Linked DNA regions of Homo sapiens. The gene in region 3 interacts genetically with the main gene of each other region. Each region holds a gene or a part of one and is shown on either strand. Other genes may lie near its edges. The genes, in order: GATB, PITRM1 and PMPCB.

The links.
Region 1: changes in PMPCB (region 3) and GATB together harm fitness more than expected from each alone (negative genetic interaction), as found in Homo sapiens cells (one large-scale study listed by BioGRID).
Region 2: changes in PMPCB (region 3) and PITRM1 together harm fitness more than expected from each alone (negative genetic interaction), as found in Homo sapiens cells (one large-scale study listed by BioGRID).

The regions. Positions count from the first base shown.
Region 1 is NC_000004.12:151,719,374-151,723,029, reverse strand, and holds part of GATB (glutamyl-tRNA(Gln) amidotransferase subunit B, mitochondrial isoform 1 precursor), read left to right. Parts: intron 1-3,491; coding exon 3,492-3,605; intron 3,606-3,656. UniProt on the Homo sapiens protein: Allows the formation of correctly charged Gln-tRNA(Gln) through the transamidation of misacylated Glu-tRNA(Gln) in the mitochondria. The reaction takes place in the presence of glutamine and ATP through an activated gamma-phospho-Glu-tRNA(Gln).
Region 2 is NC_000010.11:3,137,223-3,139,656, reverse strand, and holds the end of PITRM1 (presequence protease, mitochondrial isoform 2 precursor), read left to right. Parts: intron 1-607; coding exon 608-753; intron 754-1,319; coding exon 1,320-1,422; intron 1,423-1,532; coding exon 1,533-1,626; 3' UTR 1,627-1,929; downstream 1,930-2,434. UniProt on the Homo sapiens protein: Metalloendopeptidase of the mitochondrial matrix that functions in peptide cleavage and degradation rather than in protein processing. Has an ATP-independent activity. Specifically cleaves peptides in the range of 5 to 65 residues.
Region 3 is NC_000007.14:103,303,935-103,307,590, reverse strand, and holds part of PMPCB (mitochondrial-processing peptidase subunit beta isoform 1 precursor), read right to left. Parts: coding exon 3,551-3,656; intron 3,181-3,550; coding exon 3,101-3,180; intron 1-3,100. UniProt on the Homo sapiens protein: Catalytic subunit of the essential mitochondrial processing protease (MPP), which cleaves the mitochondrial sequence off newly imported precursors proteins. Preferentially, cleaves after an arginine at position P2.

The DNA.
Region 1 (3,656 bases), on a different chromosome or scaffold from region 3:
AACATACTTTCTTCAAGCCAAGTTAGTCTTTTTAGTTTTTAAATTACATCTTGATCGTATCACACACAATCAGTTGTCACTTCAGGGCACTTCCAGAAACAAGTTTGCAGGCCAGCATGTGGCAGGTAACACCTTAGAGGAGACTGGGGCATCACTGCCTCTCTGAAATCGTCCATTGATATCATCCCCTCCCTCCTCCTTTGAGCTCAGCACACATTAATCAAATACCACAATTTTTCAGGTTCTGTATTAGGCTCCAGGGATACAAGGGTGAACAGACAATTCCCGTCCTCATGAAATGTGCAATTGTGTGGAACTACATGTGAACAAATTCAATCCACTGTGATGGAAGCCCCAATGGGAGTGTGTAGAAGGTCAGAAGAGGTACACAGAAAGGACAACAAGGAAGGCTTCACAGAAGTGGTGACGTCCCACTAGGATTTTGAAGGGAATAAGAATGGGGAGAATCAGAAGATCAGCACGGTTTGCACAGAGGAACTACAGCAGAGGTGTTGTGGGGGGACATGGTGGTAGATGAAATTGAAGATGTAGGCAGGAGTTTGATCATGTAAGAGCTTGGCCTTTGTCGTGGGAACATCAGGGGCCATTGAGGGACTTCAGGTAACAGAATGCCACAGATCCACAATTTTAGCAGGATCACCCTAGTATGAAAGACAAACTTGAAAAGGGTTTGCAGATGCTGGCAGGTTCATGTCACCACTGCGGATTCATTGAGGGCAGAGACAGAGTCCTATTTATCTATGTACCCCTAAAGTTTAGTGCTTTATAGACATTTAAGAATTTTTTTTTTCAGAGTGAAGACAGCCCAAGTTGAATTTTCCCATTCTGTATCCTATCCTCAGAACATGCTGACCTGGACTTCCATCTGTCACAAGCAGCTTGACTAAGATCCTAGGAAATTCCTTTTTTTCTTGGCATTCTTCTAACTGACACTCTCTGTTTACTGGGCCCTCTGTGCATCTGTAACGTGTGATGACTGATGCTTATAATTCTGACCTTGAAGTACTTCATGGCTTCTAAATCATCAAAAAAAGATTAAAGCATATTCTCAGTATCACTGTAATGTTTGTGTGTTTTACTGCCTTCTTCTCTGGAAAGTGGTGGTTTATGAAGTGCCCGTGCGCTTGTGTGCACACGGACACAGTGAGAGTCTGTGATGGTCCTCAACTCTTCTCCCACAGGGAGGCTATGGTGCGTGCTTGAAAATAAACAAACAAAATAACCTGGGTTCTCTTCATGCCTAGCAGGAGGAAGCAGCTTGGTCCCAGGGGCAAAGAAGCTTGAAATGAGAGCGAAAGCAGTGGTTAGGAAAGCAGAGGGAATGATGAGGCAGAACTGGTGCAGACCAGGAGTCAGGCAGTTTACGAGCCAGCCCTGGCTGACTGCATTCTGACCCCAGGAAGAGCAAAGCCCAGGGTCGGGACTGCAGCTTCATGTTCTGTGTGCCTGGACCCGAATCATCAGGCTTGGATTTGGCGGGATTCTCCACCAGCTATGTTTGTATCTCAGTAACAACCGCTCAGTAAAATGCCAGACATTAGGCAAGTGAAAACATCAATAATTAGAGCCTCCTGTTCCCCACACATCTTTTCTTGAAAACCTTTATTGCTGCAGAGCTGACATTATTAGGCACAGAATGAAGAACTCCAAATAGAAACTGTGAAATGGCTCCATCTTATAACCTGAGTCCTGAAAAATAAGGGTGTGATGTTGTCACTAGGCGGGAGATTTGTTTAGGTTTTCTTTTTTTCTTTTCTTTTTCCTTTTTTTTGAGATGGAGTCTCGCTCTGTCGCCCAGGCTGGAGTGCAGTGGCGAGATCTCGGCTCACTGCAACCTCCACCTCCCGGGTTCAAGTGATTCTCCTGCCTCAGCCTCCCAAGTAACTGGGACTACAGGTGCCTGCCATCACACCTAGCTAATTTTTTGTATTTTTAGTAGAGACGGGGTTTCACTGTGTTAGCCAGGATGGTCTCGATCTCCTGACCTCGTGATATACCCGCCTTGGCTTCCCAAAGTGCTGGGATTACAGGCATGAGCCACCACGCCTGGCCCTTGTTTGGGTTTTCTTTGGGGACCGTATATTGCAGTAAATAGAAATGCCCCTTCCATTTTGTTGTAGAAATTTGTTTTTAAAATCTGTGTTTGGTCTACACTCGTCATCCCAGCCTAAAGAGCCAGTCCCTGAACCACAGAAGTTCTGTTTGCCGCCTCTCAGCCACGGCATGTGTGGGCTTTACAGGCAGCTTTACCACTTGCCAGTTCTGTGAATTTGGGCAAATGTTTTAGACTCTTTGGGTCTTAGTTTTGTTTTTTTAATCTGAAATATTGGAATAATGCAGATTCCTTATTTTACAGCGTTGCTGTGAGGCTGAAATAAAATGGTGGATGTGGAAATGCTCAACTAGAAGGCCCTATCTATATCAATAATAGTATATTAAATATACTAAAGAACATCATAAATATCCTAACAAAAATAGAAATATATTTCATCTGCAAACATGACATCCTCCAAAATTGTCCCAAAGTAGAGTAGGGAAATGAACTATTTATTGAATCTCTACCTTAGGGGAGGTGTTCCAGCTATCACTTTATCTGTTCTGCAAAGTAGATCTTAAATCCCACTTTTAGACACAAGGAAACTGAGACTCCTAGTCACAGCAGAAGTGGGATTTGAACCTGACTCGAGAACTTAATGCTCCTTCTCCTTGGCTACATTATCTCGTTGTCTAGTTCCAGACCCCCAGTGTTCTTAAAAGCTTTGACATTCTTTGGTGCTGGGAAGTGTGCCAGCCATTTCTTGGTCATTCACTCCTGTAAGTGGGACAGGGTGGCACCCAGAGGGAACTGGAGCACCAGGTGCCCCCAGAGAGACCAGCAGCACGGAGTCGTCCAGTGTGTGGGACAGGCCCTCCGTTGGCGTTCCACTTTTAGGGAGTTGGCCTGGCATGGACAGAAAGCCAGGCAACAGCTGTGCCACATTTCCTAGCCCTTGAGAAAATGGCTACGGCCCTGTCGTTTTCAGAAGTTCATTCTTTTTCTGTCAAAGTGAAGCCACCCTTCCTCAGGACTCCTCTCAGCAATCAGTGCCTCTTGTGTATTCTGACCGGCCCCTTATTCTGTTTGTAGAGGGAGTGAGATTAGATTTATTCTATGTAGTAACCACTCCGCTAAGCTTTTCTGCGACTCTTCCTGTTAGCTTTGATGCCGGGCACTGGGGGAAAGGGTTCCCGATGTGGCAGTTCCTTAAGTGCCCGGTGGGACCCACTGCTGCATACATTTTCTTCTTTATATCCTTCCCTGATTCCCAGGCAAACAGACTCGGCTTGTGAACTGGAGCTGCCCACCCAGAGAACCAGAGATAATGCCTGTTGAAGGGCCAAGTTGCATATTCAGCGAGGATGTCAGTGTGTGGGAGAAGCATTTGTTCAGCCTGCGGTTCTGAGAGGAACTGTGTGTTGTGTTCCCATAGGTTCTCAACAGGAGGTGTGTAGAAGCGGCGGTGATGACAGGCCTGGCTCTGAACTGCCACATAAACAAGAAGTCCTTGTTTGACAGGAAGCACTACTTCTATGCAGACCTCCCTGTAAGTACACTTTGTGATCCACCCCACTGCAAGTTCTCAGAGCTGGGCCAG
Region 2 (2,434 bases), on a different chromosome or scaffold from region 3:
AGGCAGGCATGTAGGTAGATACGTAGGTAGCCATTGCCACTCTGATGAGTTCTCCCCCTTGCTGTGCTGGAAGCCATGCTTCTAGACAAGGATGGGGAAGCAGCTCACAGCCGCCCCTCTGCAGCTCAGGGTGAAGGGAGGGCTGGGCTCTTTGCATTTACACGAAGGGAAGTCTGGATTGGCCCCCTCAGGCTGATTCCTGTACTACCCTGGGTGTGTCTTCAGGGAGATGAAAGGAAAACCTTTGTTTGCTTAATTTTTCCATGTAAGTCTTTGTAATTTCCCTGTAATCCTGACCTGCCCCTACCCTCCACTGACTTTCCTCTCCTGATGAGGTCACAGAGAAGTGTATTTAAATAATCTAGGGAGGACTTTGTGCAGACAGACCTTGTCTAAGAGGGAGAACATGTTGAAAGGCTTATGTGATCAGATTTAAATTTCCATTGAGAGTAATTGAGCGATTTGTCAGTGGGCTGTTTGGACTAAATCAGATATAAAATAGAGCTGTTAACCCATAGAAGATGTTGAACTGTTAAGTCGACAGAGGTTTGTCATAAACTTGTCCACTGGTAAAATGCTTGCCCGTTTATTTCTCTGGGTTTCCTAGGGACCCAAATACAATAGAGACGCTCCAGTCTTTTGGGAAGGCTGTCGACTGGGCTAAGTCTGGAAAATTCACACAGCAAGACATCGACGAAGCCAAACTTTCTGTCTTCTCAACCGTAGATGCTCCTGTCGCTCCTTCAGACAAAGGTATTTTGAGTATAACAGTGAGAATCTCAACCCACAGCCTCACAGATGACGTTGCTGTTTTCCAAGTTCCCGGCATGCATGGGCAGGAGCACTAGCTTCTGGTGCCTCCATCCTTGCTTGTGATACGATTTCCACGTCTGACACCCTAAACACGCTTCCTGACATCCGGGCGAGAAGAGTGCATCCTGTCATTTGTTTTACTGACCTGAGACCCAGTGGGGCCAACCCATGGCAGTGTCCGGGCTCTTTAGGGTGGAAGGAGGACGTGGGCACGGCCCGGGCATGGCCACGTTACTCTCTGGAGCCGCTTTTGCTCACAGCATCATCAGCCTCACGCGGCGCTGACTGCATCCCTGCTGCAGAAGCAGGCGTGGGTAGGGGTCAGCGTGGCACGTGGGAGCTGGAGGTCGGGGTGTGATCTCTGGGTTGTTAGACACATCCCTGTGGTTGAAACATGCACGTGAAATGACAGTGAGATGCCTGTGTCCCCTCCGGGACATGAGTGCACAGCCCACAACGCGAGCTCCCGGGCAGCGGCTCCATCGTGCCTGTGGATTGTCTTCTAGGAATGGACCACTTCTTGTACGGCCTCTCGGATGAGATGAAGCAGGCCCACAGAGAGCAGCTCTTTGCTGTCAGCCACGACAAGCTCCTGGCCGTGAGCGATAGGTGAGTGGGGAGCGGGGGAGACAGCGTCTGGGACTGGAAGCCCTCGTGCTGACTCTAACAGCGCTCACGCAGAAGCCAGTCCTTGCTGACCACGCCTGCCTTCCTCTCAGATACCTCGGCACTGGGAAGAGCACACACGGCCTGGCCATCCTCGGACCCGAGAACCCGAAAATTGCCAAGGACCCATCCTGGATCATCCAATGAGCAGCCGTGGCGCTCGACTGCACAGGAGCCCGAGACAATACACCTCCGAGCTGAATATGAAAAGTCAGAAATGCTACTGCTTTTTCCAAGAATATTATGTCATTGAGTGTCGCCAAAGCCCTTGACTGGCGAGTCAAAAACTCAGATCTATCTTAAGAGTGACCAGGAAGAGGTTCATTGAAATAATCATGCATGAAGCGCCAAAGATGCACCATGTAGAATTTTCACTTTGTACTGGCAGGCTCGTTTTACCTCATTCTAGAATATTTAAGAATCTAAAAATAAAGGGCAACTCTGACTTAACCTCTGCTTGAGTCATTATTTTAAGCAGCATTTAGGGCCTTTATTTAAAAACAGAAGTAAAATGAAAAGGTGCACAAGGGTGTCCCACGTCTGCCTGCGCTGATTCAGGAAACTCCATCACACCGAGGCCCTGGGGGAGTGTCCACCAGACGGGAGTTCACCGCGGCGGCTGCATGGAAACCGTCCTGAGAAGCAAGTGGGTTGGGGTGAGTAAGCGCTTGCTTCATCGTTACAGAGCCAGAAAGGAAAGCCTCCGCGCTAGCTCTTTCTTGGCTGTCGGACTCTGATTTCCCAAACAGAGTTTGTTTTTGGCCTCTCCTCTCCCTCCACCCAGCTCTCTGCCCCCATTTCTGAGGCGCAGCTGTTCTCTCTTGCAGACTAGAGCTAAGAGGCAGAAACGCTGTCCCTACAGGAGGGGGGCCCACCAGGGCAGCAGGGCTGTCATCCCAGCAGCCGTGTCTACTCTGGCAGGAGTCTTCCGGAGAGTTCCAACCTAGGTCCCAGC
Region 3 (3,656 bases):
TTGAAAGAAAATATTTTCACATGTATCTAGCAGCAATATAGTTTACAATAAACCCTAGGTGGTATAATGTGATGTACATTACACATGAACTATCTACACTCACTAAAAGCCATTATTTAAGAGTAAGCTCACATAGCACACCTATTTCCTTGGTGTTGCAAAGCTTGAGGTTGCACAGCTTTCTCATTTTGTAGAGCAAATGACAGTTTTCATCAACAGACCAATGGATTCACAGCTAAGAATAAGACAACTTGAAAACTCCACGTTTTACAAAATCATTTTCTATTAAATTATAAAAACCTCTGGGATCCAAACTAGCAAAAAATGCCAATTTTCAAAAAAAAAATTTTTTAGTGGAAAATACAAATATGGGCTCTATCTAATTTTTAAAAAGCTGGAGCTGGGCATGGTGGCTCACGCCTATAATCCCAGTTCTTTAGGAGGCTGAGGTGGGAGGATCATTTGAGTTCAGGAGTTCAAGACCAGCCTGGACAACATAGCAAGACTCTGTCTCAATAAAATAAATTTTAAAAGCCGGGTGCCATGGCTCACACCTGTAATCCCGGCACTTTGGGAAGTCAAGGTGGGCAGGTCACTTGAGATCAGGAGTTCAAGACCAGCCTGGCCAATATGGTAAAACCCTGTCTCTACTAAAAATACAAAAATTAGCTGGGCATGGTAGCAGGCGCCTGTAATAATCCCAGCTATTCAGGAGGCTGAGGCAGGAGAACTGCTTGAATCTAGGAGGTGGAGTTTGCAGTGAGCTGAGATCACACCACTGCACTCCAACTTGGGTGACAGAGCAAGACTCTGTCTCTAAAATAAATAAAATTAAATAAATAAAAGAAAGCTGGATACACAGATAAACTTTATTCTCCATGCTCTGCTATCAGAACTCAGGAACAGGGCCTGGTGTGGTGGCTCACGCCTGTAATCCCAACACTTTCGGAGGCTGAGGCAGGCGGATCACCTGAGGTCAGAGGTAGAGGTAGACCAGCCTGATCAACATGGAGAAACCCCATCCCTACTAAAAATACAAAATTAGTCAGGTGTGATGGCAAATGCCTGTAATCCCAGCTACTCGGGAGGCTAAGGCAAGACAATCAGTTGAATCCGGAAGGCGGAGTTTGCGGTGAGCCAAGATGATGCCATTGTACTCCAGCCTGGGCAATAAGAGCAAAACTCCATCTCAAAAAAAAAAAAAAAAAGAACTCAGGAACAAAATAGTGTCATCTAAATTTCTGAATACATCAATAGGTATCCAAATGCAAAAACTCAGGAATTACTTAGACTCTATATCCCTTACTTGAGACCCAAATTAAGATTCTTTAACTTAATTTACAATTAAAATGTTAAATTATAATTTTATAATAAATGAAGCTAGGATACAAAAAACTATTTGGCAAATAAAAGCTATACATCCTGATGATTAGCCTAGAAGAGATAAATGGTAGCCAAGACATAATTCAGAGGTCAGCAGAAACTTAAAACTGGCCTATTTCATTGAATTTAAGATGCAATCATTTATAAGGCACATCACTTATGTAGTATTTAAAATGAATACTAATTAATCTATAAGCCATTAAACTAAAGATATCTCAATTTTAGCTATGTCAAAATGAACCCATGAACCAAAGTAAAACTCATTTTGTCCACATGCCACCAACAATGGCAGAGAGGTCCCAGAAAGCTTGGTTGTTGAGGACCCATCTAACAAGTCTCTTGTCCCATTTCCAAGGCAGTTTCAAACACTTAAGCCCAAGTCTGCAAGAGCCAATTTAGAAACAATGTTACTCAAGAGAATTTCAGAGTGCACTTCCTGCCATGTACAATGAAGGTAGCTACAATGAATAACATGTTTGATATTTAATGTTTTCATCTTCTCCATTACCCGCCAGGTACTTAGCTCAGAAATCAATCCAGAGCAACTAGAATTTTTAAATTATGATCTCTAAAAAGAGAAAAATTTACAACACGAAAGAACACTTCGCTTTGCTCTAATATTAAAAAATACAAAGAAATGAAAACTGGAGACCAGGTGCGGTGGGTCACGCCTGTAATCCCCAAGTTTTGGGAGGTCAAGGTGGAAGGATAACTTGAGCTCAGGAGATTGAAACCAGCCTGGGCAACATAGTTAAGAATCCATCTCTATTTCTATAAATGTATTTTAAAAAGAAAAAAATAAAAAACTGGAAACCAATTAAAATGTACTGCTGTCTAGATTCAGACTGCCAGGAAATCTGGCAATATCTGTTGTCAATTTTTTTTTTCATTCACTGGCTTCAAACATGACCTCAAGGAAACCTTCTGAAGTCACCTGCATGTTTGGATTCCCATTCAACATTCTTATGGCTCCCTATGTGCTTCTCCTTCCCAAAAATTAGATCTATTAAATGAATGATTGAACAAATCAAAGAATGAACATACCCGTTCCATGCTTGAACAAGGACGAAGTTGGTTCTCAAGAAATAATTTAAAATCTCAAAAAATTCTCAAAGTACAGAACACCATCTTCCGACTCTCTCCCAGTTCACTCCTTTGCCCTTTTCTTGCACGTTCTACTATGTACGCTTATGTATTGAACAGTTCATTAAGTCTTTCTATAAATAAAACCTACTTTTCTTTTTTTTTTTTGAGACAGTCTCACTCTGTCGCCCACGCTGGAGTGCAGTGGTGCAATCTTGGCTCACTGTAACCTCCGCCTCCTGGGTTCAAGCAATTCTCCTACCTCAGCCTCCCGAGTAGCTGGGACTACAGGCGCATGTCACCACGCCCAGCTACTTTGTATTTTTAGTAGACATGGGGTTTCACCATATTAGTCAGGCTGGTCTTGAACTCCTGACCTCGTGATCCGCCCACCTCGGCCTCCCAAAGTGCTGGGATTACAGGTGTGAGTCACCATGCCTGGCCTAAATGAAACCTACTTTAAAAAAAATAGAGGGAAATTCTGATTCCAGTGCTCCACATTCCCCTTACACACTATCAGTTATTTGCTATGTAAATGAAAATTCTTAGGGTATCTCCCAACAGGATCAAACTAATAAGCATACCACTCCAACAACTGTGTTTAAAACATTTGTAGAAATTTAAATTGACTAACCTCCAGCAGCAGCAAGCACTATTCTTGGCCCCTTATAATGTGTGGTTATATAATCCACTAAGTCCTTACGACTTATAGATCTGTAAATGAAGTAAAACAATTTTTAAAGGAAACCAAAAAAAAAACAGATCTTCACATAATATACCTGAAATCAAATTGGACCATAACTGTATCCTAAAATGCAGTCAGAAATAGGATACAGGCAACACATCAAAGAACTTCACCTTTTTTACATCAAAGAAAAAATACACCATTACTGGTTTATTCCCGAAGTACCTATGAACTCACGTGCTTGGGAGCTAGGTGGGACTAAAATGTAGCTAACTACAGTTTCACTTAGATTACCAGGGGGAAAATTACTTTCTGAAACATACTTTTTGAAAATTTGTAAATGTTTATTTTCAACATTCATAAATTCCCTTATACACCAAGAAATTCTGTTATACCTACTTGATATTTTCAGTTGGTCCCAAAATTGTCCGTCCAAGTGCAGTATTTTGATAAGCTGTGGCATGAAGATAATCAAAAACAACTTCTTGTAAATTGGTTTCAACTT